4 separate regions of the Homo sapiens genome follow, and regions 1, 2 and 4 are each linked to region 3. Evidence: fine-mapped expression QTL. A gene starts in region 3. Each other region holds a variant in brackets. All regions are shown on one strand. Distances are from middle to middle.

Evidence for each region. PIP is the estimated chance that this variant, and not a neighbour inherited with it, causes the effect.
Region 1: its variant is the best candidate, but not a certain one, in a credible set for the expression of MCF2 in spleen (GTEx, PIP 0.82).
Region 2: its variant is the best candidate, but not a certain one, in a credible set for the expression of MCF2 in whole blood (TOPMed, PIP 0.79).
Region 4: its variant is the best candidate, but not a certain one, in a credible set for the expression of MCF2 in thyroid (GTEx, PIP 0.50).

What each region holds. Positions count from the first base shown.
Region 1 is chrX:139,641,409-139,649,490 of GRCh38, reverse strand. MCF2 (MCF.2 cell line derived transforming sequence) reads left to right here. Exons shown (of 29, transcript NM_001171876.2): 3 at 2,588-2,702; 4 at 3,833-3,923. Among named protein-coding and RNA genes, the nearest start is that of MCF2, 63 kb to the left of the region's middle. The variant C/T (reference allele first, on the strand shown) is at 5,439.
Region 2 is chrX:139,811,541-139,819,622 of GRCh38, reverse strand. ATP11C (ATPase phospholipid transporting 11C (ATP11C blood group)) reads left to right here. Exons shown (of 30, transcript NM_001353812.2): 3 at 196-285; 4 at 2,680-2,760; 5 at 4,638-4,745. Among named protein-coding and RNA genes, the nearest start is that of MCF2, 110 kb to the right of the region's middle. The variant G/A (reference allele first, on the strand shown) is at 3,056.
Region 3 is chrX:139,704,284-139,712,365 of GRCh38, reverse strand. MCF2 (MCF.2 cell line derived transforming sequence) reads left to right here and starts at 4,199. Exons shown (of 29, transcript NM_001171876.2): 1 at 4,199-4,260.
Region 4 is chrX:139,631,888-139,639,969 of GRCh38, reverse strand. MCF2 (MCF.2 cell line derived transforming sequence) reads left to right here. Exons shown (of 29, transcript NM_001171876.2): 5 at 7,516-7,635. Among named protein-coding and RNA genes, the nearest start is that of MCF2, 72 kb to the left of the region's middle. The variant C/T (reference allele first, on the strand shown) is at 2,979.

The DNA of each region.
Region 1 (8,082 bases), 63 kb after region 3:
CACCAGCTTGCTTGGCAAGTATGTAGTTATATTTAAGATATTTATTACATTATATATTACATATCATTTATATTACTAGTTCTATACCATACTGTATCTATAGAGGCCCTTTGCTTAAAGATTCACTAAATCTCTTGGTTCAGAATTGTACAGTTTCTCCTTTGAGTTTTTTAAAAACTCTTCAGTGGATGCCATTATTCTCAGTGATTATTTTCACTCTACTCTAATTCTGGAATATCATACAGTGAAGATTAATAACCCTTTGATTTAATACTTTGGACTAGTTTGATTAAAAAATAATTTGGGAATGAATACTGTCTCTCAAGTTTCCCTTGGTAAATATTGAGGCAAATAATTAATTTGATCTTTTTCCATGTGCACTAGAGAAGAAAGTGTATTCTGCTTTTGTTGGATGGAGTGTTCTAGAAATGTCAATTAGGTCATGTTGGTTGAGACTGTTGTTCAGGTATACAATATCCTTGCAAATTCTTTGTCTACTTGTTCTATCAATTATTGAGAGATGGGTGGTGAAATATCTGACTAAAATTGTGAATTTGTCTATTTCCTCTTGCCACTCTATCAGTTTTTGCTTTGTGTATTTTGAAGCTCTGTTATTAGGTGCATAAGCATTTAAGATTATGTCCCATTGATGAATCGACCACTTTATCATGATCAAATGATCATTTTAATATCTGGTAATATTTTCGACTCTGAAATCTACTTTGTCAAATATTAGACAGCTTTGTTTTGATTAGCACTGTCATGGTATATCTTTTTCTATCCTTTGCTTTTAATAATTTGTACTTTTATATTTAAAATGTGTGTTTCTTGTGGGCAGCATATAATTCAGTCTTTCTTTTTATCCAGTTTGATGATCTTTGACTTTTAATTGCAGTGCCTAGATCATTGACATTTTATGTGATTATTCATATGGATGGATTTAAATCTACCATCTTACTATCATATAATAAGCAAAATACAAATAGTGAGATGGTAGCTTTTCCCATTTGTCCCATGTGTTCTTTGTTTTCCTCCATTTCTGTCTTCTTTTGCGTTGAGTATTGTTGTGATTCCATTTTATATCCTTTTCTTTTTCTTTCTTTTTGGGGGGGGCGTGGAGAGACGGGGTCTTGCTCTGTTGTCCAGGCTGGAGTGTAGTGGCATGATCTTGGCTCACCGCAACCTTTGCCTCCCAGGTTCAAGCGATTCTCCTGCCTCAACCTCCGGAGTAGCTGGGATTACAGGCGTGCACCACCACACCCGGCTAATTTTTGTATTTTTGGTAGAGACAGGGTTTCAACATGTTGGCCAGGCTGGTCTTGTACTCCTGACCTCAAGTGATCCTCTGGCTTCGGCCTCCCAAAGTGCTGGGGTTACAGGCATGAACCACTGTGCCCGGCCTGTATCCTTTTCTATTGTCATATTTTTATTGCAGATTGAATTAAAAATATTTTTACATCTTTATTCACTTAAATTCAGCCAAATAAAAATTACAACTGAACTAAAAAAATTTCTATTGCTGAGCTAATTTCAAAGGCCACCTTGCAACTTTCCTCCTAAAATAATTCTTCAGATTCTATTTGGCACTTAGTATTTATTGAGCATTCGCTCTCTGTGTAGGTGCTAGGCTGGCTGCAGATGTGAACCTTAAACACATGTAAGGCTCATCTCTGCACTTAAGTGGCTTTCGTTTTCAATATTTCTCATCCTTCAGGCTGCATAGAGGGCTATTGGGCTGGGTGGAGAAACGGGTAGAAACCAAAATGAAAGCCCAGAGCTGGTGCAATCATTCCCTCACCAAGAACCCCTATGACAGTTACCATTATTCCTGGTTCCTATGGAAATGGGCTTAGGGCAGCCTCACCTATGAGCACTGGGATCCATGCTTTCCAGGAGTCAAGGTCACCCACTTGGTCAAGATACTGCTGGATGCAACTGCTCCAGGTTAATGGCTGCATGGGTCTGCGGGGAGCTTCCACAACCCTACACCTCTGCCTGGACCCCTACCCAGGCTGAACATTGAATTTTGACCCACAGATAATTTGTGATCTTTCTTTGCATTAATAAAATTCCTATGTCATTCCTGCCATCATTCCTTTTGTTGTTTCTTCCATAAACACATTAGACCATCACCTATTTCCTATAGGGTGCTCTGTATCTTTTCCTGCTCACCATGACACTAAGAGATCGATTATATCAAATTTTCCACTTGCTGTCAAGCCATCATTCACTCATTTTAAATTTAGGCTCATTGGTATAGAAACAGTTATTTCCCAACCCCTTGGTTGTCCAGATTGGGGAATCAGCTATTTTCCACTGTATTTATTATATGCATTTCATGACATTTTCTTCTGACTATATTCATTCATTTTACTCTCTTTCTTTTTCTTTTTTTATTGAGAAACTACTCTGCCACCTTTTAAACTTAAAGTGTCAGGAACTTGGAGCCATTTTGGTTTTATGTGGAGATCATCATCTTTGCAAAAAAGTTGTGTTGCTGCAAAACAGTATTCAAATCTAAAATCCTCTTCTTGCTTCGTTGTTATATACATTTTTAATTCAGTTGATTATTTTTCTATTGTTGTAGGTGGCCGGGGAAAGGACAATGCTTGGATCATTACGTTTCCAGAAAACTGTAATTTTAGATGTATACCAGAGGAAGTAATAGCAAAAGTACTTACTTACCTGACATCTATTGCAAGGTATAGTATTTCATTACATTTTTTTCAATTCGCTTTATATCAGATATCCATCTGAATGTCATAACATGAAAATGGCTTAATATAGCTATTATTATCATGGTGAATAACCAACTGACTTAACTTCAGAGTAGATAAGAAGTACAACTTAGAAGGAGAAGCTGGCAGCTACCTAAATTGTTACAAAAATTATCCTGAGAATCTATGAAAATAAAATTGGGGATCTAGGAGTATTTGTTCCCATCAAAAAGAACATAGGTTGAGAACGATGGTCATACATATATGCTTTAATTTGCTTAAAAGGAAATATTACCAGCCAAGAGTGAGTACAGCCATTTTTCATTTCTTCTGAATATAACACAAGAAGACTGAATCTTAAGTAGATTCAATAGTGGTACTGGGAGATACTAGGAGGAATGTCTTGAAATTAAAAATTATTTGGAACTAGAATGCTTTAAAATGGAAAGTTTAAAAAGGTTTCTTAGAGATTTTATGTGTGTTAAAGACAAAATTTTCAAAGGAAGAATTTTCTAGTTACTAACCCTGAAGAACAAGAGGACACAAATCTAGGATGATAAAATTCAAAGTCTCATGAACAAAAATCAAATCTCAGAAAATGAAACTTACAATGTACCTATTGAAGCTTGAAAGTGATATTTTTAGGGCAAATAGAAGTTATATTTTCCATTAAACTGCATTTCCTCAGGAGCAGACTAGAGTTAGAAAAATAGATTTAGCAGTGTGATTTTGAATGAGTGAATGGATCATTGACTCATGATGGATTGCATGGAAAGTTAAATCTGATATCATGAAGGACACTTATCTTTTGAGTTTTCCCACACCCAAGATTACAGTATTCTAAATCAATTTTAGTGACCTATCTTCATTACACTATCACTTTCCTATTTAAAAGATTGACATTAATGCTGCAAAAGAAATTTTAAATAGTGAGTAAGGGAATATGTATTCAGATTAGTTTTCTAAGATAGGACTTTGTGATAGCTTTCCAATTCCAAATCTGTCTTCAGTCAAGACATCAAATGTAGATGAAATAATCAGAAATAGAATGAAGGCATATATAACAAATTTGCATTATTATTAAGAAAAAGTTCTTATTTCTTCTTATCGTTCAGGCAAAATGGATCAGACTCCCGGTTTACCATTATTCTGGATCGAAGATTGGATACATGGTCTTCTCTCAAAATCTCTCTCCAAAAAATCTCGGTAAGTATCTATGCATTATACAGTAACTTTTTATTTTTGTTTTATATTATACTTTCTGTTTTGGGAGGTATAGATTACTTTGGTACTGACGGAGACAATAAAAATTGATGGAATGTGAGGAGGGAAAGTAGAAGGAGAGGTTGTAGCAGAGACTGAGATAAATAACTCTACCCAAAATAAAACCTAGTAAGAATGAGTGAGTAGTTTGTGGCTCCAGTTATGAGTGAGAAGAGATTCATGGTTCTATGTGCCTTTCAGGACAAGGCAAGTTTTTATGGAAGCTTTTTAAAATTATTTATTTATTTATTTATTTTGGTGGAAATAGCTGTGTTGCATACTCGTATGTGAAAAAGTATAAAGAAGAAAGTTTAAAACAATAGTAATCCAACCACCCCAAAATAAGCAGTTTTTAACATTTCAGTGTACAACTTTCTAGATTTGTTTTACCCTAGGATAGGGTAGGGAGATGAGTCACATATAAAATGATATATAACTTCCCTACTGGTATCTAGTCCCCAGGTTCCCAAGACCCAGAGAGAGAAACATTTTCTCTAATTAAAATAACGAGAGGTACAATTCTGCCCATGACCAAGATAATCTTTTACACTTTTAGGCTCACAAGGGTATCACAAAATTGTTTGACACTTCACTTTCATAGACGAGGAGGGAGATGAGGGACCCCCAGACTCCTTCTGAGCTGGCAAGATATGGGCTCTCTGTGGAAGTGCCATGTGGCCAACTTCCTCTATCAGACTAGAATAGCTGGGAATCAATATATTTTTTTTCTTTGAGATTCCAACATTGCCAGCCATCTGAAATTCTTACTTTGTCTCCTGACTGATTGAGGAGGTCACGCCCACCACAAGAACTTGATTTAGTTGCAAAGGCAAAACAAAAATCTAGGTTGTTGGACTTCCAAGCCAATGTTCTAGCACTTGCAAGGTAAAATGGGTAAGATCATTATTCTTTTAATACTCAGAATGAATTATTCCTCACTTTGGACAAATAAGCAAAAAGTGGTTTCCTGTTTATTTAACAGAGGTGTTTAATCATTAGCAGTGGAGAGAAGAGTTAACATTAGATATACTCAAATTACTAAAATAAAATAGAAGAAAATTTGACTTTCTATAGCATATTAGTGCTTTTTCAAAAGCATTCACATTTATTAAGTATTGTTGATTCTCTTCATTTCCTGATTAAGTACTGCAAGTAGGTATCACTATAATTGTCTTATAGATGATGAAATCACATTGATATTTATACTTTGGAATGGCTATGTGATGAATCCAAGCTCAAATAGCCAAGTAACCAAAAAAGCCAGAGCAAGAATTGAAATGTCAAGAATTCCAGTTGGTGATGGTTTCTATCATTTTCCAATTGGCTTACAAATAGACAAATACATTCAATGTTATTTAGATAAAGGTAAAATTTCTTTTGAGAGATTAGATCTGTCCTCCATATACAATTGAGCCTTATCAGTGGGGCTAAATAAAGTAAAAGCTATTTCCCTTGCTC[C/T]GGTCTTTTAGGATTGGTCCTTGGGCTTGCTGAGTAGACCTTGGTTTATGCTAATAATTGCTTCTCTTATACTAAATAAAGCACTTGTTACATTAGAACATTTTTTATCACCCAGGTTTTTTTCTTTTGGCCAACACTGCACCCGCCTGATTAAATTAATTTTCATTTTGTGACTGGTTTGGCACCTGACGTTAGTTTTTTTGGTAGAGTTTTATTTTTATTATTCAAAATAGGTGGCTTGTAACAGAGGTTCTATTTTTCATAAAAGAGAAATATAAGATTAGGTCATGATCCTGTCATTTTGAAGTCAACAGAGGGTAATTACTTGTCTACCGGGGAGTGATACTCCTCTTTCTGTATTCCCAGGGCTGCTTTCTCAGTGGAGAATTTTGACCTATGCTCAGTAAAGAACTTGGATCCCAGGGTCCCTTTATTTTCATAACTGCCAAATTGATCGTGCTGGGCAAGGGAGGGGTACAGATTCTGACCACATGTAACTGGCTATAGGTTGTTTTAGGTGTTTCTTTTTTAACATGTTAAATGTTTTTGCTTGTGGTATAGTTTCTATACTCATACTCAAGAGCACATTAATTACATCTCAACCATTAGTAACTGTTGGTTACTGTTTGAAATAAAGGTAAATATTGAATGCAAGCTAATTTCAAGTGCAAAAGTTGGCATTCAGAAAGGATTTCTAGTGAAATCTACCATTGTGTAGCTAGGTATAATTGCCTGTGGTGTATTATTTCAAACAAGTGTCTGTGAAATAATCATACAATTCAATTTGAATACCTTTATTTGTAGATTTCAAAACAAATAAAAGCATTTAGGTTGTATTTCATAATTAATGAGAGGAGACTTTATTTTAGTTATACATTTTGGGGAAAGGTTAATTTGGGAGAGAATTGTATCCGTCTTAGAAAGTTTGCATGTTCTATTCTTTCTAGATTATTACCAGGACAAAATTTTGCAAACTATAGCCTTTCACAAGGCTTAAACCCAGAATACAATAACAGAGAAAACAAAACAGAATTGAAATTTAAGTCACATACCAGGGTAGGACGAGAGTAAAAAGCATGAGTTAATACTACCTTCACAAAGATTCTTAGCATTCCACCTTAAAAATCAAACTGCGCAGAGGAGAAAGCCAGTCCCATCAAGCCTGCTCCTAGGAAGAGAGCTGGTTTTTTTTTCCTCCTCCTTCCACTCTTAGGACATGCCTGATCTTCTTGAGCAGTCCAGCACAAGCTAATCCACAAGGTTCAATCAGGCTAAGTAATTGGAGGAATGTGTTAACTCTGAATTACAAGGAGCAGAAGGGAAGGATCTGTCAGCTGACTAATCAGGGATAGTGGTTTTTTTTTTTTTTTCCTCCCCAGCATTGCTGCCACTGTGCTAATGGAAGCAGCCACGGCAGCTTTGTTTGATAGAGATTTTTGGCTGCCGTTTTTAAATACTACCCAAGAAGCAGCTCGTATTTCATCAACGTTGCGTTGACAATTGGAAAAGAAAAGTGTAATTGCGTACAGGCGAAATGGCAGAAGCAAATCCCCGGAGAGGCAAGATGAGGTTCAGAAGGAATGCGGTAAGGGCTCTGTCTGCACTCCTGGAAAGCCTGTTCCCAAGTTCAAGTGCTGGGATGCTGCAGCATGGTGCTATAGCACAAACTGCTGAGTAGGGTTTTTAAGGACAGATGGAGAGAATGGAGACTTATATTTGCATGGATTGCATTGATGTGATTACTGTGATATTGACATAGGGTAATTTTCAGGCAATTGAGGGGGTAGAATATAATTTCAAAATCTAAATGTCATCAGGTTTATGAATGAGCACCTTAGTCATGTTATTCGTTTAAGACTGTATGAACAATTTTGAATCATTGGACAGCATAGCTTTAAATAATGACTTAAAACAATATCTAACAAAAGGATTCATCCTTTCTTTCACCATGATCAAGTAGAGTATATTGCCATGGATAGGTCTGGAGGGGATTCCATCATCACTTAAAAATGCAGCCTTTCCTGGGTGTTACCGTATAAGTGAATAAATTTAAAATCTGTAATGATTTGAAATCCTTATGGTTTCAATTCTTCTCCAAACTGAAACTTCGTAGGTACAAAATTGTCACCTGCTGACAACTTTTTTCTTTTAGGGAAAAAGACAGTAACTCACTTTTCAATATAGACTAGAATTTGGAAGTCTCTCCTCTCAGGTACATTTCATGCAGTCTTTTGCCTAAATTTTCCCTTCATTCATTTATTCATATAGTAAATTCCCAGCAAATTTCTAATGTGATCTTTAGATGTATTTTGGAGAAATGTTGAAATAACACTAGCTAATTTAATAAAAAACTAATCATCAAAAAGGCTTTAAATGCCACTCTTTTTCTTTCAAAGATTAATATAATGTTATTGATGTTATGGTTTAAAATATAAACTTGCTCACTAAAAATATCGAGATAACACACACACACAGATAAGAAGGTAAAAATTGACCATAGGAAAAAAATGACAGTTTGAATTAAAATTATGATAAGGAAAGTAAGACTTTTATTATTGTTGAATGACAGTGAACATCAATAGGTGTGTAAATGATTTATTTTCTAATAAAGCTCTTAGCACAGACTGCTATTTTAAAAACTATA
Region 2 (8,082 bases), 110 kb before region 3:
TTCATTTCTGAAAAAGGTTTTCATATACAGTGCCTCTAAATATATGCTTATGTATATGTGTGAGATTTCAGTTTCAAAGTGTTGGACATACTAAATATCACTTTATATGATAATGTGGACCCATAATCAGTCATTACTATTAAGATTTTTCAAGTTTTCTTCATAACAGTGTTCTTTTTTCTTCCTCCCTTACAGTATACACTTTGGAATTTTCTCCCAAAGAATCTGTTTGAACAGTTTAGAAGAATTGCAAATTTTTATTTTCTCATAATCTTCCTTGTACAGGTAAGAGCTCCTTAAACAGCCACTTAACTTTTAGAAACTTGATTGCTTTAAACGAATTTTCAATCTATTTCTAACCTTAAAATGCCATGTAATTAAAAAAAGACATTCCAGAGCTTATTATGACTTCTTAAAGTAGAAACATAACATTTAAAGATTATCATTTTGTAAATTTCTAAAGTTGTGTTTTTACTAGAAAACCTGTTGAGATTTTGTTTCATTGTTACTTTCTTTGAAATTTTCATGGATATCATATTTTTGCTCATCCCAGGATGACGTGTATTGTGTACCATTAAATGAAATGGAATATATCAAAACTGAAAATAGTTCAAACTAGTAGTTTTATTTTGTTACATACCAGTTTCAGCCTAATTGGAAACTTCTCACTCATCTTCCTGATTACCATTTTTGCTCTCTCTCATTCATTTACTCACTGTAAGGGTGAGAGCCTAGTTAGATCAATCTGCTTCTCTGTATTCTTTCTACTGTTTTGTGTTTTAAATTTTAGACAGTTTAAATTGTGTCTTCCATCTTTAAATCTGTAAGCTATTAAAATCTTTTCCTCGCCATAATTACCCCTGAAAATTTTACTACATTAAAGGTACTTTTTTTCTCATTTCATTTTTTAAATGAAGCAGAAAAATCCCATTGAAGTTGCTCCAATGCCCTGTTGATGTTAAGTGCTTCTGTTGACTCACTTTGAGGCTTTGAGTAAATGGTACTGTAATTGAATTTAGCCTTGCTACTTAAAATCAGTCTGGGATATAATATGGGCAAGAGCCTATTTTAATCCTGAATGATGGAAGATTTGAAAAGGAGCTCCTCTGGATCTATGGTCAGATGTCTTACAGATATAGAATAAACTACCTAGAGGATTCTGCTTGAAAGAATCATTCTACTTGGTGGGCAGTGCATTTCATTTCAGTTCAGCAAATGTATACCACTCACCTACCTACTATGTGCTGTGCAGTAGGACAGACAACAAAAATGGTAGCAGGTACAATGAAGATCAAGATATGGCTTTTCTACTCTTAAAGAATTTATGCTATAGCTGAGAAGACCAGTCACATAACAGTTATGTATTCACTTAATGTAGTAAAGCCATTCAAGAAGCATTAACAGAATGCTTTGGGTATACAGTGTAAGTTATCATTTTTTTCTACCCAAGAGGAATTTGATAAGGCTTCAGAGAATAGATGCTATCTGAACAGAGCCTTTAAGGATTAGAAGGATTTACTTGGTGGAGAATGCTGAACTGGTATTTCAGGGATAGGGAAGAGATTGCCTAAAGTCACAGAGCCATGTAGAAGCCTTGCGTACATGGAAGTATACATTGTATCTACAACACAGGGTGTATGGCAGAGGCAGGGCTTGTTGAGGGTTGGAGATGAGAGTCAACGAGTTGGGAGGGCAGACTGAACTCAAAATCATCCTCCCTTAAATGTAGTTCTTTTTCAGTATTTCCTGTGTCAGTAAATGATGACAACATTCACCTAGACATGCTAACCCGATACTTGGAAGACATCTTTAATATTAGCATTTACATCTAACTCTTGGCATTTTTGCCTCCTAAATATTTATAGAACTTCTTTCCATGCCTGCCGCTAACACTAGTCCAAGCCCATCATCTTTCACCTAGATTACAGCAATAGCCTCCTAAATAGACTCCCTGCCTTCACTCTTGTTCCCTTCTAATTCATCTTCCACAGAGCAGTAAGAATGATCTTTTCAAAATGCAGTTCTGTTCATGTGACCTTTCCTTGCTTAAAACTTTCAAGGATTTCCTGCTATTTGTGGGATAGAGAATGAACAGCTTACTTTGGCCTAGAGGGCCCTGCACAGTCTGGCTCCTGCCTCCCTCTCCAGCCCCATCTCACACCACACTCCCTCTCGCCACTGGCTTCCTTTATTTCCTAGAGACCTGCATATACTGTTCACTGTGCCTAGAAAACTACCTTTCGTCTAGTTAACTCCTGTTTACCCTTCAGACCTCAGCATCTACACACTTGTTTTACTGTCTGATTTTTCCTGTAAGCTGCCAGCTACATGAAGGCAGGGACTTGTCTCCATCTTGTTTAAAGCAGTATCTCTAGAGCTTTGCTGATAATAGCACAAGCGCTGACAGAATGGTGCTCAGCAAATAGGTGGTAAGTGAATGGATATATTTCAATAAAGGGGTTAATCCAAGCTGGGATAAAAACTATGCCTGAATTTAGGACTATTTCTTAAACTAACTGCCATGTAGTTTGCTTTTGTTTTAATGAAAATTAATATTTACCCTACTACTGGAAAGTGTTTTGTCTATGTTTCTGTTTGAAATGTTTGCAGCATGTAAGTGCTGCATATGAGTTAATGACAAATTTTCATTTTACTTTCAATTTAATTTTATTTACCTAGGTCACAGTAGACACACCAACTAGCCCAGTTACCAGTGGACTTCCACTTTTCTTTGTTATAACTGTTACAGCCATCAAGCAGGTAAATTTCTTATTTACACTTGCACCTGCATTTCAGTCCAGGCTTGTTGGAATTTCATTGTCAAAGGCTCTTTTTCATATTTATATACAGTGGGTAGTATCCTTTATGGATTTATTTTATATTTGGTTCCTCTTGAAAACCTATTAAAATGATAGGCACATCCTTAATGTATTTCCTTGTTTCCTCTTAAATATCTGTGTATGTGGGTGTAAATGTAAAAGAAAGAGCAGGTAAAAGGTACAGCCCAGTCAGGAAATAGGAGGCAGATTTTTTAATGCATATTAATTGTTTCAGC[G/A]TGGTATGTCTGTGTGAAAAACTCCCATTTTTGTGGATTTTTAAAAATTGCTTAAGCCTGTAGCGAGAACTCAAGGGAAGAATACTTTAATTTTCTTGTTTTTTCCTTCTACTGCTTCAGGGGGTAGTAGGTAGAGGGGACATTTCCTGTTTTTTGTCAGAGCTGATAGACTGCCACAGATTGTGATATGGATGTCTTTGAAGTATTTTGAACATTTTGTATGCTAGTATGTTTGAAAAATTGCAGATGAAAATGGAAACAGGAAATTGGAGGTGAAAGGGTAGGTTAACAATGTTAATCATGTTTTGTGTCAGTCCACAGCATCTGACTATTTACAAACATATTTTTAGATGATATTTAACAAAGTGCTTTTAAAAAGGGTACCAAAGAAGCTTGCAAAACAAAGGTCTTCTTAGCATTATTGGGAACAAGATTACCTTTCCTCTTGGGGTTATCTGGTCTTATATCTTGCCTACCAGGAACTATAAGAATATTTTATCAAGTGTTCAGTTGCAAAATAAAGACTTTTGGAATGTTCTTTTCCTTAGACTGATAGGATTATTTTCTTTAACATCATAAAATTGCTGGTTCCAAGAATAGCATGTGTGGTTTTCAAAGGCTTTTTTACTGATTCATTCTGCTCCCAATACTGGTTCATGTTAGGACCTTTATTTCTTCACCAGCATCACAAAATGTACTCTATAAAGTGATAGCTTAGCATTGTCATAAAGAGGACAGAAGAAGAATGGATATAGTACCTGAGGGGAAAAAGTGGGGGGAGGCGATGAAGAGACTTTTCAAACAGTTGTGTTTGAAAAGGTACAGACATTCTTACAACGAAAAAAGACAAAGGTATATAAAAAAGGAGAGGAGGTCATGATCAAACATTCATGAACATCCTTTAGATCTTTTGGCTTAAATCTACTTTAGATGAAAAGTCCAAAGTAAAATGAGCCATTAGATCTTTCTCTGATTACTTTTAACTGGAAACGATGAATACCAATTTATATTTTCTTTTGTCACCAAGTCAGTTGAAAAGTTTAGCTGTTGATCTCTACAACTTATCATAGCTTCTCTGCCAAAACAATCCTTGCTTGCCTTTTCTATTATTCTCTGTGGGTGAGAAATAATTAAAATACTCCCTTGGAGATGATTACTCGAACAGTCTACTACAGCATATACAAAAGATTATATGTAAGTGATTATGGCTATAAGAAAATACAAACCCAGGACAATCTTTTTTCAAATTAAAAAATAGAATTAACTAACTCAAGAGTACAGTTAAAATAAATCATAGCCTTTCACACATGAAAATATTAAGTCTCCAGTGCTTGTGTTTTCATTAATGTTTAAAGAGTGGAGAAAACTTTTAACACAACAAAGCTATTTATCTAAGGAGTATTTTGAAAGTGTGTCTCAGATTTGCTATTAAAATGTGTAGCATTGTCTCTTTAGCATTCTGAGTTTAAATTAATGCTATAATTATAAATATTTGGTGTTGACTCATGGGAGGATATAGAAATTTATTAACAGCTTTATTTCATTATCAGAACTCAATTATATAGTTATTTTTATCTTTCAGGGATATGAGGATTGTCTGAGACACAGAGCTGACAATGAAGTCAACAAAAGCACTGTTTACATTATTGAAAATGCAAAGCGAGTGAGAAAAGAAAGTGAAAAAATCAAGGTATTTTTTCTTAGTCCACTCCTTTTTTAATGGTAAAAATACACCATTTTAAAGTGTATAATTTAGTGTCATTTAGTACTTTATAATGTTGTGCAACCGTTAACTCTATCTAGTTCCAGAACATTTTCATCACCCGAAAAGGAAACCCTATACCCATAAGCAGTCACTCCACATTTCTCCCTCCTCCCAGGCCCTGGCAATACTAACCTTCTTTCTGTCCCTATGGATGTATGTATTCTGAATGTTTCATATTTCTTATGTGTCCTTTTTGTCTAGCTTCTTTCACTCAGAATGTTTTTGAGGTTCATCTGCATTATAGTATATAGCAGCATTTCATTCCTTTTGATAGCTGAATAACATTTCATTTTATTTATTCACCAGCTGATGGACATTTGGGTTGTTTCTACCTTTTGGGTATTATGAATTGCTATGAACATTGAATTACAGTTTTTGTTTGAACATCTGTTTTTAATTCTTTGAGGTATATACCTAGGAGGAAAATTGCTGGGTCATATTGTAATTACGTGTTTAACTTTTTAATGAACCACTAAACTATTTTCCATAGTGCCTGTACCATTTTACATTCCCATCAGCAACATAAGAGACTTCCAAGGTAGTAGTATTTTTTTTTTTGACAATCTCAGGCAATTGTTTATTCCAGTTAATCATTGTTTATTATTTACCCAGTAAGACCCTGTCAAATAACATTTTTGACTTGTCCATGTCAAACACTAATTTTTTGGTTCTCATTAGATTTTTTAAATTAAAAAATTATATTTTTAGAGCAGTTTTAGGTTCACAGGAAAATTGAGTAGAAAATATAGAGAGTACCCATAAACCCACTGTCCCCAAACACATTTTCTCTGGCTGTCAACATCCCACACCAGAATGGTACATTTGTTACAATCAGTGAACCTATTTTGGCACACTATCACCCAAAGTCCATAGATTATATTAGGGGTCACTCTTGGTGTACATTCTGTGGGTTTTGTTAAATATAGGATACATATCCACATAGCCTACATTTGTATATATGTACATATGTATCCATAGTAGTGTCATACCAGGATAGTTTCACTGCCCTAAAAATCTTCTGTTCTCTTCCTGTTCATTCCTTATTCCCCCCAACCCATGGTAACCAGCGATCTTTCTGCTGTCTCTATAGTTTTGCCTTTCCTAGGATGTCACATATTTAGAATCATACAGCCTTTTCAGATTGGCTTCTTTCACTTAGTAATATGCTTTCAAGTTTCTTCCATGTCTTTCCATGGCTTGATAGCTCATTTGTTTCTAGTGATGAATAATATTTCATTTTCTGGATATACCATAGTTTATCCATTCACCTACTGAAGGGCATTTTAGTTGCCTCCGAGTTTTGGCAATTATGAGTAAAACTGCTATAAACATTTGTGTGCAGGTTTTTATATGGACATACATTTTCAATTCATTTGAGTAAATACAAAGAAGTGCTGAATTGTATGGTAAGAGTATGTTTCGTTTTGTAAGAAACTGCCAAACTATCTTCCAAAGTAGCTGTATCATTTTGCATTCTCACCAACAATGAATGGGAGTTCTTGTTGTTCCACATCCTCACTGGGTTTTGATGTTCTCAGTGCTTTGTATGTTGGCCATTTTAACAGGTGTGTAGTACTATCTCACTTTTGTCTTAATTAGCATTTCACTGATAACATATGATATGGACTTTCTTTTCATATGGTTCTTTGTCATCTGTATATCTTCATTGGTGAGATGCTGCTTAGATTTTGCCCATTTTTAAAGCAGGTTGTTTTCTTATTGAATTTTAAGAATTCTCCATATGCCCAACAATAGTTAAATTTCCTTGCATCATCTTATAGTAATGATGGGAGGAAGACTACAGAGTGGGAGGGTCACCAGTGTTTGACATAGAATGTCTTCCTTTTTCTACTTTTTCTTTTCTCTATTCTTTACATCCTGGTCAAGGGGGAACTTGTGCCGAACTAGGTTAGGTTAAGATCTGAAGTTTTTGAAACAACTGTAGAAACTCAGCATTATTGATCAGCGTAAGAACCAAAGGCAGACTGAGTACAGTGGCTTACGCCTGTAATCCCAGCACTCTGGGAGGCCAAGTTGGGTGGATCGCTTGAGTCCAGGAGTTGGAATCCATCCTGGGCAACATGGCAAAACCCTGTCTCTCCAAAAAAATTAGCCAGGCAGTCCCAGCTACTTGGGAGGCTGAGGTGGGAGGATCACCTGAGCCCAAAAAGTTGAGGCTGCGGTGATCCGAGATCGAGCCACTGCACTCCAGCCTGGGTGACAGAGTGAGACCCTGTCTCAAAAAAAAAAAAAAACCAACAACAGTAACAACAAACAAAGGCTGCCTAAATGATTCATAGCATCCAATCTGTTGTTCCCAGTACACTACGTAAAATTGCAAAGCAGGCAAAGGCCTCTTACATCTCTCCCTTTCTTTCATTTCCTCTTTCTGATTTTGTTGACACTCCACCCCACTCCCCTTTACAAAGGCCCCCATTTTTCATTTTCCCTCCACCAAGCTTCTTTTCCTTGAGGCTGAACTCAACCAGGTATAATCTTGATTAAATAAATGTGAAGCTATTGTGATTAAATTATTGTGTGAGATGCTATTTGATGTAGCTGTTTCTGGAGTGTAAGTGTGTGGGAAGAGATGCTTATTAGCCAGCAGTCTCTAAATAGCAGATTGCTTGGCTGGGGAGTCGGGGGAAAGAGTTTGTTGAGACTCCTTTTGAGCAAGAGAGAGACTTGGTCTGCATCCTTAGTGTGGTGGGGAGTCTTTGAAGTGTTAAAGCCGGAGAGTGACTTGATGATTTTTAAAAATAAAACTGGAGTGAGGCAAAATGAAAGCATGAATGTGCAATCAGAGAGATATAGCTTAGGCAAAAAATGATAAGGGCTTATATTAGGATGATAGTAGTATTGATAACAATAATAAAAATAGTAGTCACCATTTATATGGTATGTAGTATATGCCAGGCAGTCTTTTTTTACATTCTGTTAACTCATTTAACCCTCAACAACAGCCATATGAAGTAGGTATTTTTATTATCCTCTCTTTACAGATGATGAAACCGAGGCATAAGGAGGTTAAGGAACTTGCCCACTACTAGTAAGTTGGAAAGCTGGGATTTGAATTAAAGCAAGCCTAGGTGTAGAGTCCATGCTCTTAACCACAACTCTTTACTACCTGTTTAGATTTTAAGGGAAATGGATATATTCAGGATATTTTTTGGAGGTAGAATAATCAGGATTTAGTGATTTAGGATGTAGTGGGTGAGAGAAACAGAAAAAAAAAAAAAGAATAATTAAGATAGCCTTCCTG
Region 3 (8,082 bases):
ATACTGACGATACTTGCTCAAAATCAAGCAATACCTAATAATATAAACATAAAAGTCACTTAGTATCACAACCCCCCTGAGGTAACCATATTTTTTTGAATATGTATATGTATATATACACATATACACAACATATATACATATATAATTTTGTATCTATTGAACTATGTTATACACACTATAATTTTAAACCATAAAAAGTCGTATGATTGTTCTATATAAATTAATTCATATATATATGACTTTTAAATAGCTGTGTGGCATTTCATTTATTTCATGCACATGGTTTAACTATTTCCTAGTTTATTATATAAATTTCTCCTCCTCCTCTTGCCTGCTATTATGAATAACATGGCAATGTATTCTGTACAAAAATATTTCCATTCCTGCCCGAGTAGCTTCTTGGTGTAAAGTCAAAAATGTGGAATTCCTGGGGCAAAAGATATGTACATGACAAACTGTCTTTGAGAAAAGCTATATGAATCTGTGCCCGCAACAACAGTCAGCCAGTTTACCCTCCCCATTCTCAGCATTAAGTGCTCTCCATCTTTAATCATTCCTCATAGATCTGGGGTCAGCAACCCAGTCAGCATCTTTAGGGCTGTAGGGAAAAAAAGGTAATGAAGAATGTCTGACCAAGACTATATGTGGCCCACAAAGGGGGACATTTCTATTATCTTAGCTGTTTACAGAAAAAAAAATTTGCCAACTCCTGGATTAAAGGAAAAATAGTGTTTACTCTTGGTAATATTAGCTTTTCTTTGCTTATTTGTGAGTTCCAATAGATTTTCCATGTACATGTGGGTGTTTATATTTCCTCTTTTGTCAATTACACTTCCTTCACCCATTGTCCTATTAAGTTGCTCACCTTTTTTACTCATTATAATTCTGTATATTAGAATATGTGCATGTTGTCATGTATTTCACAAATATTTTTCTCTGTGTCAATTAATCATTAAGAATGTATCTTTTATATTGCACAGAAAGTTTTAGTGTTTATGCAATCAAAGCAAATATTCCGAGAATGATAGCAGGTGCTACTTTAGATATGGTAGTAAAAGAAGTTCTCTCTGACAAGGTGACATTTGAGCAGAGAACTGAATTAAGTGAGAGAGGGAGCCATTCATATATATGGATGAAGGGGAATCCAGGCCATGTGAACAGCAAATGCCCAGACCCCAAGATAGGAGCTTTCATGGCATATTGGAGGTACTGCCAGGAGGTCACTGTGACCAAAATGGAGGGAGATTGGTAGGAGTTGAAATTAGGTATGGAAGGATGAGAGCATGTAGAGCTGTGTAGACTATGATAAGGACATTAGATTTGATTCTGAATTCCAGTAGAAGTCTGGAATATTATGAACAGAGGAGTGACATAATCTCACTTAAGTTTTAAAAGGATCACTTCTATTTTTGGTATCTTTTAAAAATATGTGTTATATTTTCTTGTTGTAAAGTAAATGCATGTCCATTTTCAATTATATAGATAACATACAAAAAAGAACCAAGTAAGGATGATAGTATTTTAATAAGCTTTTCTGGATATATATATTTACCTTTATCTACATATATTAAGGTTGGGACATACCTTAAAGATCTTCTGGCCCAGAAATAAATCCAGGCATTTATGGTCAACTGTTCTTCAAAAAAGTTGCCAAAAACACACAATGGAGAAAAGACAGCCTCATCAATAAATGGTGTTGGGAAAACTGGATATACACATGCAAAACAATGAAATTAGACACATCTCACACCATGTGCAAAAATCAACTCAAAATGGATTAAAGACTTAAAGGTAAGACCTCAAACTGAATGTTCTCACCACAAAGATATGACAAATATATGAGGTCATGGATATGCTAATTACCCTGATTTCATCATTATACAGTGTATACATGTATTAAAACATCACACTGCACTCCATAAATTTTATATATATATATATATATATATATACATATGTATGTATTTGCTATGTGTCAATTCAAAATAAGTAACATAGAAGAAAAGTTTCTTGACATTAGTCTAGGCAGAGATTTTTTGGATATGACCCCAAAAGCACAGACAACAAAAGGAAATATAGACAAATGGGATAGCATTAAACTAAAAAGTTTTCTGTACATCAAAGGAAACAACTGAGTCAAAAGACCATCTATGGAATGGGAAAAATACTTACAGACCATACATCTGATAAGTGGTTAATACCCAAGATATATAAAGAACTCAACTCAATAGCAAAAAGTAGTAAATAACCCAATTAAAAATGGTCAAAGAACCTGAGTAGACATTTCTTAAAAAGAAGACATACAAATGGCCAACCAGTATATGACAAAATGTTCAACATCACTTATCATCACAAAAATGCAAATTAAAACCACATTTAGATAACATTTTGCACCTGTTAGGGTAGCAATTATCAAAAACATAAGATAACAAGTGCTTGTGAGGATGTGGAGAAAAGGGAGCCCTTGTTGGTGGGAATGTAAATTAGCACAGCCACTATGGAAAACAGTATGAATGTTCTGGCCCAGAAAAAATCCAGGCATTTATGGTCATATTATCAATTACCATATGATCCAGCAATGCCACTACTGGGTATATATCCAAAGAAAATGAAATCAGTCTGTCAAAGAGATATCTACACTCCCATGTTCATTGCAGCACTCTTCACAATAGCCAAGATATGGAAGCAACCTCAAGAAAATATTTTTTATATATACTGTATATATATATATATATATATATATATATGAATGATAGCATTCGTGTCTATATAGTGTATATATATACGAATAGCATTCGTATATATAGTATATGCTATATATGCTATGTATATAGTATATGCTATATATGCTATGTATATAGTATATGCTATATATACTATATACATAGTATATATAGCATATACTATATACATAGTATATGCTATATATACTATGTATATAGTATATGCTATATATGCTATGTATATAGTATATGCTATATATGCTATGTATATAGTATATGCTATATATGCTATGTATATAGTATATGCTATATATGCTATGTATATAGTATATGCTATATATACTATACTATATATACACAAATGCTATTCAGCCTTTAAAAAAGAATGAAATTCTGTCATTTGTGACAGTACGGATGAACCTAGTGGACATTATGCTAAGTGAAATAATCCAGACACAGAAAGAAAAATACTGTATGATCTCACTCCTATGGGGAATCTAAAAAAGTCAAACTCATAGAAGTAGAAAGTAGAATGGTGGTTTCCAGAGGATGGGGCAGGGTTTTGGGAGATGTTGGTCAAAGGATGCATCATTACACGTAGACAGGAGGACAAAGATCAAGAGATCTATTTTTTAATTTTTAAATTTTTTTTCATATTTTTATTTGTATATATTTTTTGAGATGGAGTCTTACTTTATTGCCCAGGCTGGAGTGCAGTGGTGTGATCTCAGCTCACTGCAACCTCTGCCTCTTGGCTTCAAGCGATTCTCCTGCCTCAGCCTCCTGAGTAGGTGGGATTACAGGTGTCCGCCATCACACCCAGCTAATTTTTGTATTTTTAGTAGATATGAGGTTTCACCATGTTGGCCAGGCTTGTCTCGAACTCGTGACCTCAAGTGATCCACCCACCTCGGCCCCCCAAAGTGCTGGGATTACAGGTGTGAGCCGCTGCGCCCTGCCAAGAAACCTATTGTACATCATGATAACTATAGTTAATAACAATATATTGTGTACTTGAAAACTGCTAAGAGAGTAGATTTTACATGTTCCCACCACAAAAAGGATACATATGTGAGGTAAAGAAAGTATTAATTAGCTTGATTTAGCCATTCCAGGATGTATACATACATCAGAAATCATATTGTACACCATACAATTTTTATTTGTCGTGTACAAAAAAAGATATGCCCAGCTTCTTCTGCATTTTGTGCAGAAGTATTTTGTTTTCAAACTGTCGGGCTAACTCTTGAGTGGGCGTTCTGTTTCTCCAGATTTGTCCTTGTAAATAAAAAAAAAAATTAGGTCTCCTTCCTCTACTGTGATACAGTGTATGATTTATAATTTTGTTTCTGGGTTCTACTTCAAGTCAAGGCTTCTCTACACTTTCAGTTGCTGACATCAGATTGGCTTTGAAACTTTTTTTCATGTTAAGAGCAAGAAGGCTTTTGTTCTTGGAGCAGGCAGAGAGTATTGTACATTCTTTTGGCCGAGGAAACAGAATGAGCTGCGACAGTCTTAAGGACAAACATTTGTGGTAAGTATTTCTTTACCTTAGAGTAATATAAGAAATGGATTGGGGCAATGAGTGGGTCAGTCTTGGAATATTTTTATAGATAGCATCCCCCATAGCCAGTCATTTTCATTCTTGTAGTAGTTTCCCCTTTTCCCCAGAATCCCCCATTTCTAGGACCAATGATTTGCAGGACACAGTGCAGTTCTTGTAAAGGTGTATCTGTCCATACAGACCGCAATAGCCTGCTTTGGGTTTCTCTGACAGTTCTTTGTCTACTGTTCAGTTTTTTCTAAAATAATTAGGATTCCCAAGTAAAGGCAGGTGGGAATTTCTCAACTCTGGATTAGAACTTCACCACTGTAAACCTGGAACTATTAGTATAACAAATCTGGTGTGCACCTGGGCTTCATGGGATGGCTGTACCTTGGTGTGGTTCCTATGCAATGTATGGGCCTCAGTCTCTGAGCCGTCTAGGGATTAGGACTTGAGAAATTGCCTTGTGAACTTGCATATGGTTGGCTTATAAATTTGGACAGCAGATTATTTATTTTCAGTGGGTAAAAGACCATTCCATTATTTGTGTCCAGTTCTTTTTAAGCACGCAAATTTTCCAGACCAAGAAGAACTACCTTGGTCCCCAGAAGGTAGCCGGGGGGATGTAGACTTGGAGAGCAAAGAAAAATGGGAGGTCTTGAGGGCAATCTTCCAAAAGAATATGGTGATGTTTCTCACATTTTTTAAAGCAGGGTCTCTAGTGAGGCAAAACCACATTTTATTCTTGCCTCTATAGTATTTATTTGTGGAGGTAGAAAGTTTCTGGGGAAGGAGTGGGACTGTTTATATGAAGAACCTAGAGGTCTTCTCAGAATGAAAGGATTGGAAACTCCAACCCTTTTTTTCTCTGATATGCAAGGTTCTTGAAAGTTGCTTGAGGGGCCCAAAAAGATCCTAAGGAAAACTCACCAAACTTGGTGAGAAAGAGGTAGAAAGGGATGGGAGCAGCTCCCTCCCAGAGCCCTCCATCCTTCTTTTTTCATCTGAGCTGGTTACTCTGCCGGCTAGCTGCACATCTCTTTCTGAAATTCCCTTTGTCTGTGCTCCTGTATCGGATCATTATTTCCTAGATTCATTGTCTTGCTCTTCATTGATGTACTTCATCATTTTTTTGGGGAATACATTCTCTACTAACTTCTTTATATGGGTTATAAACTTTTATTAATAATAATAATAATAATAATTATGTCTGAAAATATCTTAGACAACCTTTATTTTTGTTTGAGAGTCTGACGCAGTATAAAGTTCCAAGCTGAAAAACCTTTTCCCCCCTGATTTTGTGTTTATTTTTCCATTAGTTTGTAGAATCCAGTGTTGCTATTGAGAAGTTCAATGTCATTTTGTTTCATTTTTTTTCAACTTTAATTTTAGATAAGGGGGTACATGTGCAGATTTGTCATATGGGAATATTACATGATGCTGAGGCTTAAGGTACAGATCCTGTCATCCTGGTAGTGAGCATAGTACCCAATAGTTGTTTTTTTTTTTATCCTCCCCACCTCCCTGCACCCTCTAGTAGTCCACAATATCTGTTGTTCCCATATTAATGTCCATGTGTGCTCAATGCTTAGCTCCCTTCATAAATGAGAACATGTGGTATTTGGTTTTCTGTTCCTGCACTAACTTGCTTAGAATTATGGCCTCCAGCTCCGTGCATGTTGCTGCAAAGAATGATTTCTTTCTTTTTTATGGCTGCCTAGTATTCCATAATGTATATGTAGCACATTTTCTTTATCCCATTTACCACTGATGGGAACCTGGGTTGACTCCATGTCTTTGCTATTGTGAACAGTGCAGTGATGAACATACAAGTGCATGTGTCTTTTTGGTAGAATAATTTCTTTTGGGTACATACCCAGTAATGGGATTGCTGTGTCCAGTGGTAGAATTGTTTTAAGTTCTTTCAGAAATCTCCAGACTGCTTTCCACAGCGGCTGGACTAATTTACATTTCCACCAACAGTGTATAAGTGTTTGCTTTTCTCTGCTGCCTTGCCAGCCAGCATCTGTTGTTTTTTGACTTTTTAGTAATAGCCATTCTGACTGGTGTGAGATGGTATCTCATTGTGGTTTTGATTTGCATTTCTCTGATGATAGTGATGCTGAGTATTGTTTCATATATTTGTTGGCCATTTGTATGTCTTCTTTCGAAAAGTGCCTGTTCATGTCATTTGCCCACTTTTTAATGGTGTTATTTGGTTTTTACTTGTTAATTTTTTCAAGTTCCCTATAGATTCTGAGTATTAGACCTTTGTCAGATACATAGTTTGCAAATATCTTCTCCCATTCTGTAGGTTGTCTGTTTGCTCTGCTGATAGTTTCTTTTGCTGTACAGAAGCTCTTTAGTTTAATGAGGTCCCACTGGTCTATTTCTGGTTTTATTGCAATTGCTTTTAGGGACTTAGCCAAAAATTCTTTACCAAGGCCAATGTCGAAAAGAGTATTTCCTAGGTTTTCTTCCAGGATTTCTATAGTTTGAGATCTTACATTAAAATCTTTAATCCATTTTTAGTTAATTTTTGCATATGGAGAAAGGTATGGGCCCAGCTTCAATCTTCTGCATATGGCTAGCCAGTTATCTCAGCACCATTTACTGAATATGGAATTGTTTTCCCACTGCTTGTTTTGGTTGGCCTTGTCAAAGATCAGATGGTTGTAGCTGTGCAGCTTTATTTCTGAGTTCTCTATTCTGTTCCATTGGTCTATGTGTCTGTTTTTGTACCACTACCAAGCTGTCTTTATTTGTTTGTTTGTTTGTTTTTGAGACTGAGTCTCACTCTGTCGCCTAGGCTGGAGTGCAATGGTGTGATCTCAGCTCACTGCAACCTATGCCCCTGGATTCAAGCAATTCTCCTGCCTCAGCCTCCCCAGTAGCTGGAATTACAGGTGCCCGCCACCACGCCTGGCTGATTTGTGTATGTTTTAGTAGAGATGGGGTTTCACCATGTTGGCCAGGCTGGTTTCAAACTCCTGACCTCAAGTGATCTGGCCACCTCAGCCTCCCAAAGTGCTGGGATTACAGATGTGAGCCACTGTGCCCAGCCACCCAAGTTGTTTTGTTTACTGTGGCTTTATAGTGTAGTTTGAAGTTGGGTAGTGTGATGCCTCCGTCTTTGTTCTTTTTGCTTTGGATTGCTTTGGTTATTTGGGCTCTTTTTTGGTTTCATGTGAATTTTAGAATAGTTTTTTTTTTTTCTAATTGTGTGAAGAATGCCATTAGCAGTTTGATAGGAATAGCACTGAATCTGTAGATTGCTTTGGGCAGTATGGCCATTTTTATGATATTGATTCTTCCAATCCATGAACATGGAATGTTTTTCCATTTATTTGTGTCATTCCTGATTTCTTTCATCAGTGTTTTGTAGTTCTCTTTGTGGAGACTTTTCACCTCCTTGGTTAGGTGTATTTCTAGGTATTTCATTTTCTTTGTGGCTGTTGTGAGTGAGACTGTGTTCTTTATTTTTGTTTAATTTTTCATTTCCACAGGTTATTGGGGAACTGGTGGTGTTTTGTTACATGAGTAAGTTCTTTAGTGGTGATTTTTGAGATTTTGGGGACTGTGTTCTTGATTTCACTCTCAGCCTGGATGTTGTTGATGCATAGAAATGGTACTGATTTTTGTACATTAATTTTGTATCCTGCAACTTTACTTAAGCTGTCCAAATTTATAAGCCAATCATATGCAAGTTCACAAGGCAATTTCTAGGAGCCTTTTGGCAGCATCTTTAAAATTTTCTAAGTATAGATTCATATCATCAAGGAAAAGAGATTGTGTGACTTCTTTTCATAC
Region 4 (8,082 bases), 72 kb after region 3:
TGAAGGCTAAATAAGATAATATATATATAAGAAGTCTGACACATACATAATGGCTTTTAGTCAAGGGTCTCTCTTATTGTTACTGCCTTTCTTTACCCTAAAGATTAAATAGGAAAAGCTATAGGAAAATAAATTATTTTTATAGTAAGTAACCAAACTTTTATGTTTTATAAGTTACTTTAAACATTCTAGAAATAATAACTAGAATAACTGAAAAGTGTGCATAGGGTGATGAATTGCCTCCCTTAGAGAGCACACACAAGAGTATTAAACAAGGTTAATTTCTAGACTTCGGTAGTGAAATGATGTATTTGGTTTACGCCTGCTCTTGTTGTTATTGTTGTTGTTACTGCTGTAAGATCATAGAACTAGGCAATCTGGAAGTACGTGTGAGTAAAAGGGAGTAAATCTGTTCTCTGGGAGGGAAAGATGAGAGGGAGCTTATTTTGTGCTCGTTACCTTGAAGAGCCTGTAAGAGCTGCTGCTGAGGGCTGGGGTGGGACCACGTACAGTGATTGGACACATGGCTCCGAGTCCTATGTGATAGGCAGCTGGTTCGCTTTTACTGAGATGTCTTTAAGCAGTCACATGCTGGAACTCCAGAAAAATGTCTGCGAGAACCTAAAACCAATGCTGTTTCCTCTCTCGTGCAAACTATTTTTTTAAAAAAGCAAAAACACATTGAAATAAAACAAGACTAACCTTTGCCCAAATCCCTTTGCTTTTTTGACAAGTTCTCAAAAATGAATTATACTTTCAAAATCTCAGTTTTTATTTTGGGGAAAAAGAAATTGTGCTTTTTCATGTTTATATAACCATACAGATTAGAGGTTCTTAAAGCAGCATACCCAAGAATTTAGAAATATAATATTCCCAAACCAAAATGGGAAAGTTCACTGGTCTTGAACTATATTTGCTTTGATATGTGCATCTGATACCCTATGCTGTTTGATTGTTCATTTAAATACTAGCTTTAAAATGGATTATCTTGAGAATTTTAGTTGTTACAAATATTGGTATATAGAGAAAAAGTACTCTCTATATATACTTATATGTATATCAACATAGATACATACAAACTAATCTTAAATGTATATGGCTTGTCAGGTTAAAATTGCTCAAGAGTGTTCTGTCCCCTCTAGATTCTCATAGCCGGCAATCACAGATAAGGACGTGTCCATATTATTGATATTGATTGATGTTCAGATCTATGAAGCTTTTTGGTTCAGAGGTTGCAAATTGTCAGTGCACAGATGCGTTTTGTTTAGAGTATGCAGCATTTTAACAAACTTTCAATTTGTTTTCCATCTTTAAACATCTGGGCTTTGCATGACAATCTGGATTTCTGTCTTCTCTTGAGAAACCAAAGAGTTGGCAATGCTGGGCCCACCTTGCCACATGACAACATGTAGCTGGAACTGATTTATGAGTGAACTGACTTATGAGTGCCCTCTGCTTTGAATGTTCTCCAGTTCACCATGGTCCCCACCACTTCCTGTTGCTCCTCGTCATATAGGAGGAGTATGAATTGCTATTTTCCACCTAATTTAGGCTGTTCTTTAATTAAGCCTACTTCACATTTACATTATCTCCCTAACACATGGTAGGCATTCAAGTTTGTCACCTCTGCTTTAGGTCTCAGGTTTAGATTCTCAACCAACCTGATTCTTGTGTCATCCCTGCTATAACTTCTGCAAATTCCTCTTGTTGACTGAGTCTAGTTCAACAGGCAGGTGAAGCGGGGTTTTAATTCTGCTACTTATGTGCTAGAAGGTCTTGAAAAATTGCCTGACCTCACAAAACCTCAATGTGTTAGTTCCCTATTGCTGCTGTAATAGATTACTACAAACTTAGTGGCTTAAAACAGTGAAAATGTATCATTACGGTTCTGGAGGTCAGAAGTCCAAGATTACCCAACTGGGCTAAAAATCAAGGGTCAGCAGAGCTGTGTTCCTTCTGGAGTCTCTAGAGAAGAATCTGTTTCTTTGACTTTTCTAGCTTGCAGAGATCGTCCACATTCCTTGGTTTATACCCCTGCATCACTTTGACCTCTGCCATCACATCTTCTTCTCTGACTCTCCTGCCTCCCTCTTATCCTAATGATTACATCGGTCCCACCATGATAATCCCGGATAATCTCCCCATATCAAGATCCTTAATCACATTTATAAAGTCTCTTTTACCATATAAGATAACATATTACCAGGTTCCAGGGATTAGGATGTAGACATCTTTGAGGATAATGGCACTCAGTTTCTCCAGTTGTGAAATGAGGACAAAAATAGAACCTACTGCATGTAAATACTTAGCACAATGTCATAATAGTGCTCTTTATGGGCATAATTCTAGTAGTATGCATTCAATAAATGACATTTCCACCCCTGTCCAACTCTCCAATCTCCTTTCCCTACCTTAAAGCTTTGAGAGGTCCTGAATATATAAATATACATAAATATACGTATTTTTTTTGCTAAAGAGAAGCTATGAAAAGTAGTCATAAATGTCATACTTTAAAAGTGTGACAGTTTGGTAGGCACCTGTTATGGTCTGGGTTAAGTGAATGGGAGTGGGATTAAAAATTCAGGTATGTCTTATTCACGTGTGGGCACGAGGGATGAAAACAACACACCTGGTCTAAACTATATGATTTAGTTTTCTAGAAAAATAACTGACAAATCAGATGAATTGTTTGAGTGCCACCTGATTGCTCTGATTGCTTAGTAGTTGTGTAGCTATTGCCTACAAGTTATTTAGTCTCCCAAATGGCTACTAAAATTGGGAGTAACTATTGGGTTAACAGAATCCATGTGCTCTAGGAAGATATGCAAAAAAGATTATAAAATTGTACTATAAACTATAACAAAAAATATTGTAAATGTTATTATGTAGTCAATAAATGAAGTTTTCATCCTTTGATGGTGCATTTTCTTTAAAAGCCCAAGTTTTTCTGGGCTTTTTGTGACAAGTGAATTACTAAA[C/T]ATTTTGAAGGAATTAAGGAATGAGAAGGTATGCTAAGATAATCAGAAGGTTTTACTTAAGAATGAACTGATTAGCATATAGAATTATCTTTAGAAGCAACTTATATAGCCGTCAATGTTTGGGATAATCCACTTTATTAAATAGAGCAATAACAGGTTTAATAAACATCCAACATAAAATCCCTAGCTTATGAGCAGCTGAATACCCCTACCCCTGCTTAAAATCACTTCCCCACTCATCTTGCAGACGGTGATTTTCCTTCTCTCTCCTTTCTTTCTACTTTGTTCCCTGCTATGTGATCAGCTGTCTCTGGACCTGGCTGCTGGTACAGCCTTGCTCTCCTAGGAATGGCAGAGTAGAGAGCAGGGCCTTACCTCAGGCAGAGAGTTGCTACATAGCTCTCTCTATTCCCATAGTATCCTCCCATCCCCTCCTCCCTCACACATAATTTTGGAGATGGGTGAGTACCCCTGGCTTGAAGTCAGCCCCAGGTTCTTGTATCCAGATAATTCTAGATACAAGAGAATATGAGATTAAGGGAAGTCAGAGAGAGAAAGATGAAACCAGATCAACTTAGAATCCATGAAAGAATAAAAGTAATTTTGCTTTAAATGTTGGCAAAAGTAGGGTGCTTTCAATTTCATTTAAAAGTGAAAAAATAAACAGGTTCAAGGCAGGTGAGTATAATAATATAATGGGAATTTACCCAGGTGAAGAAAAAGGAAAGGCTTAACTCCTAAAATTAAGGGAGTAAAAATAGAATCTGTGCTTTCCACTTAAAAATAGGCCAAAAGTTCCCACAAGTCCCTGTCAGATTCTTCCCTTAAGCTAGCCTTTATCCATATCCCTAAAGTTTTCTACCCAAACCTGCTTGTTCTGACGTCCGAGAATCCAAGGCAAAATTTTAAAACTATCTTATTAATATTTTTTACAGTTTAAAAAGTGCCTTTTCATGTCCTTGGCCCACTTTTTAATGGGGTTGTTTGTTTTTCTCTTGTAAATTTGTTTAAGTTCCTTAAATACTGCATGTTCTCACTTATAAGTGGGAGCTAAATAAGAAGTTATGAACACAAAGAAGGAAACAACAGACACGGGTCTACTTGAGGGTGGAGGGTGGGAGGAGGGAGAGGAGCAGAAAAGATCACTATTGGGTACTGAGCTTAATACCTAGGTGAAGGAATAATATGTACAACAACCCCCACTGTGACACGTGTTTGTCTCTGTAACCTTTGCATATACCCCCAAACCTAAAATAAAAATTTTAGAAGTGCCTTTATATTCATTATTTCTTTTAATTCCTGTAATAACTGGAAAACATATATATATATTTTTTTTCGGCAGAGTCTCACCCTGTTGCCCAGGCTGGAGTGCAGTGGCATAATCTCAGATCACCACAGCCTCCACCTCCTGGGTTCAAGTGATTCTCATGCTTCAGCCTCCCCAGGAGCGGGGACCACAGGCGTGTGCCAACACACCCGGCTAATTTTTTGTATTTTTAGTAGAAACGGGTTTTCACCATGTTGGCCAGGCTGGTCTCGAACTCCTGGCCTCAAATAATCCTCCCACCTCAGCTTCCCAAAGTGCTGGGATTACAGGTGTGAGCCACCGTGTCCAGCTGGAAAATACATATTATACTTAACATAAAATAAAATATACATTACGTACATAATAGAAGGTAGGATATACATTACCGTTGGAACTCTCTGTTTCTCTGTCTCTCTCTGTTTCTGTATACATGTTAACTTTATTCTTTTCAATGTTTCCCCAGCAGCAGGGCTCTTGGCAATCTGCTGCTTTTGAATGGCATCCTCAAAGTTTCCTTCACTCAGTATTCGTTTGAAAATTCTAGGGCAGGACTTCTTTGGCCCTGCTTACATCAAATGTTCATACTTATGTTTTTTCTTTTTCTTTTTTAAAAAGATGAGGTCTCGCTCTGTCGCCATCATGGCTCACTGCAGGCTCAACTTCCTGGGCTCAAGTGATCCTCCCGCCTCAGCCTCCTGAGTAACTGGAACCATAGGCGCATGCCACCATGACTGGATAATTTTTAAATTTTTTGTAGAGATGGGGTCTCACTATGTTGTCCAAGCTGTTCTGGAACTCCTGGCCTCAAGTGATCCTCCATCCTCGGTCTCCTAGCCTGTTGGGATTACAGGCATGAATCACCATGTCTGGCCCTAATCATACTTCTAATCACTATTAATCATTGTGTGTTGGAAGGGCAGGGCCGTGTAGGAAAATAAGAGTTCTCATTTGGAACCAATGTGTAGAATAATAGAAGGGGGAGTCGTTTCTCAGATGAAGGGAGAGAGTAACAGTCATGGCCTCCTGGGGGAATTATGAGTTGGACAGCCATCCCAATTTATGTATATTGATAATCATTGTTTAATTTATTGATTTAATTTTATGCTCTTTTAATTTACTTATTTGTGCTTATCACACTCATTTCTCTTTCATTTACTCTAGTTCTCATTGCCACTTAACATTTTATGTTTTATCACCATCTCAAATTGAATTAGGAAAATCCCCAGTTTTGAGCATCATTTCCCAAAGAGTCTATGTTTTATACCCTGGTGGAAGTTACTTTTTTCTTTTATTTTAAAATAGACTTTATTTTTTTAGAGCAGTTTTAAGTTCACAACAAAATTTAACAGGAAGTACAGAGAGTTCCCATAAACTCCTTGCCCCACAGTATCTTATTCTTAGTTTATAGTTTTGTTTAATTACTAGTATTGTAATATGCCTGAAATATAATTGCAGTTGGAACATTTTTCATATATTTTGCTCTATTATGCTCTAATCTGCCATCTTGAGGCTGATGGCTCCTGATTCTCCACTTTTAGCCTAGACTTCTTTCCCTTCTTAATTGTACAAACAGCTATCCGAAGGACATCATCTGGATGTCCTGCTGACCCTTCCAACCTAACGTGTATATGAATGGAGATCAGAATCTTGTTTCCCTTCTTAAAACCTGTTTCTCTTGTGTTTCCCATCTCAGTGAAGGTTGTACTATTCAACCAGTTACTCAAGCCCCAAATCTGGAGTTTGATCCTCCTAGTACCTCCTTTCTCGGCAAGTACATCAAGTAGTTATGTCTTGCTGATTGTGCCTCCTAAATTCTACTCTTATTCCTGGTATCATTACTTTAGTTCAGAAACTCATCATTCCTGGCTTGGATTACTGTACCAGCCTCCTAGCTCATCTGTCTGCTTCTACTCTTGTTCAAATCCAGTTCTTCCCAAAGCCAAAGTGATCTTTCTAAAATGCAAATTTGACCATGTTGTTCTGATGCTCAAAACCTTTTAGAGACTCCCCTTACCTCCAGGAAAAAAAAACCCATGATCCTTTCTGATGTGGTTCTGGCCCGTTTTCCCAACACCATCTCCCATTGTCCCCCAGTGTCATTTCATCTAGCTCTCTTGACTAGGGCCTTTTCAGGAGGTGGAGTAGTTTAGTGATTAAGAGCACAGACTTAGGGGCAAATGAAGGCTTTGCCAGCTGGGGGAAGGTATCCTTAAACTCTCTGAGTCTCACTTTCTTTATTTGTAAAAGTGAGTAACCTAACTCCTTCATAGAATTATTATGAAAAGAATTTATGATAATATTGGCAAAATGCTTTGCACAGAGTAAGCATTTAGTACGTGGTGATTTGTTATTAAAATTGGGATATGTTACTCCGTTCTCCACTTATTTTGCAATGTGTCCTCCTTCTTTGTCTTTTGAATTCTTTAGTGTAGCAGTTATTTTTGACTGCATACTATGTGCCAGCAAGTTCTAGACGCTGGGGAAACATTGGTGAACTAGAACAACATTCTGATCCAGTTAACTCCTCGTTATGCTTCAAGATCTTTTTGACCTTCCTATGTCTCGGAGAGTTTGTGCTATCATTTCCCCTTGTATATTATTCTAATTCCTTTGATTACTTATCAATTTAGTTAAAGAATTGCTGATTAGTAATGGACTCTGCAGTTGAACTGTTGGGTAGAGATTGTGTTTTCTTAATTTGTGAACATTCAATGCCTAACAGAGCTTGATATTCATTTAAATACATGAAGTAGACACATAGAAGATGTTCAGTAAATATTGATTGGATTAAAATAAAAATATAATCCCATAATAAAGTTTTCTTTCATTGTTTAGTGTAAATACACAGACAAAAACCCTTTGACTTTTAGGGTTATCCTAGGAAACTGCCACCTAATTCTATTTGTTTTTATAGGAAATAAGTGCAATTTGAGTTCAAATAACTCTAAAATAAGATTTAGAGTCTATTTCTTCATAAGGTTGGATCTACTTCTTTAGTGTGAGAAAATTTCGTACCAGAAGTGTTGCAAGGATCTGACCTGGAGCCTTACATTATTTTTCTATTTGCATGTTTTTAGATTTTATCAATATCCATTTGTAAAGTGTTGGCCTTTTACTGGCTTTTATGAATTTAAAATTTGTTTCCTTCAGTTACATATTTTCTGATATGTGCTCAGTTGAGTGTGTGTTGACAATTTTTTTTCCAATTTCTTTTGTTCTTTCTTTCTACAGGCTTCCTTCCCTGGGAACTTGCACTTGGTTTTGGTTTTACGTCCTACCAGCTTTCTTCAACGAACGTTCACAGACATTGGATTTTGGTTTAGTCAGGAGGATTTTATGCTTAAATTACCAGTAAGAGTATATTATTTAAATGTTTTGTTCCTCTAATTCTCATGAAGACCTGTACCATGCTGTTTATATTTTACATGTGCCCATGTGTCATTTAAAAGAAAAAAATTAAAATGTCTTTTAAAAGTATACATTTGAAATGCCCAAAAGTCTTTCACTTCTACCATTTGAAAAAGAAATCGATTCATCAATTTATAACAAAGCAATTACTTTTGCAAAAAATATATGTCATATATGTTATATATATGTGTATATATGTATGTGTGCATGTGTGTATATGTATGTGCGTGTATGTGTATATAAGCAGGAAATTTTATTTTTAGTAAAATTGAGTGTATGTTTTATGTATTTGAACTCCCGTGAACTTACATCCTGAGCTAGTCCAGAGTACCATGACTTTTTAAAAATATTTTTGTTTGTTTTTAAGGTTAGGAATAGGGTGCTCATAAA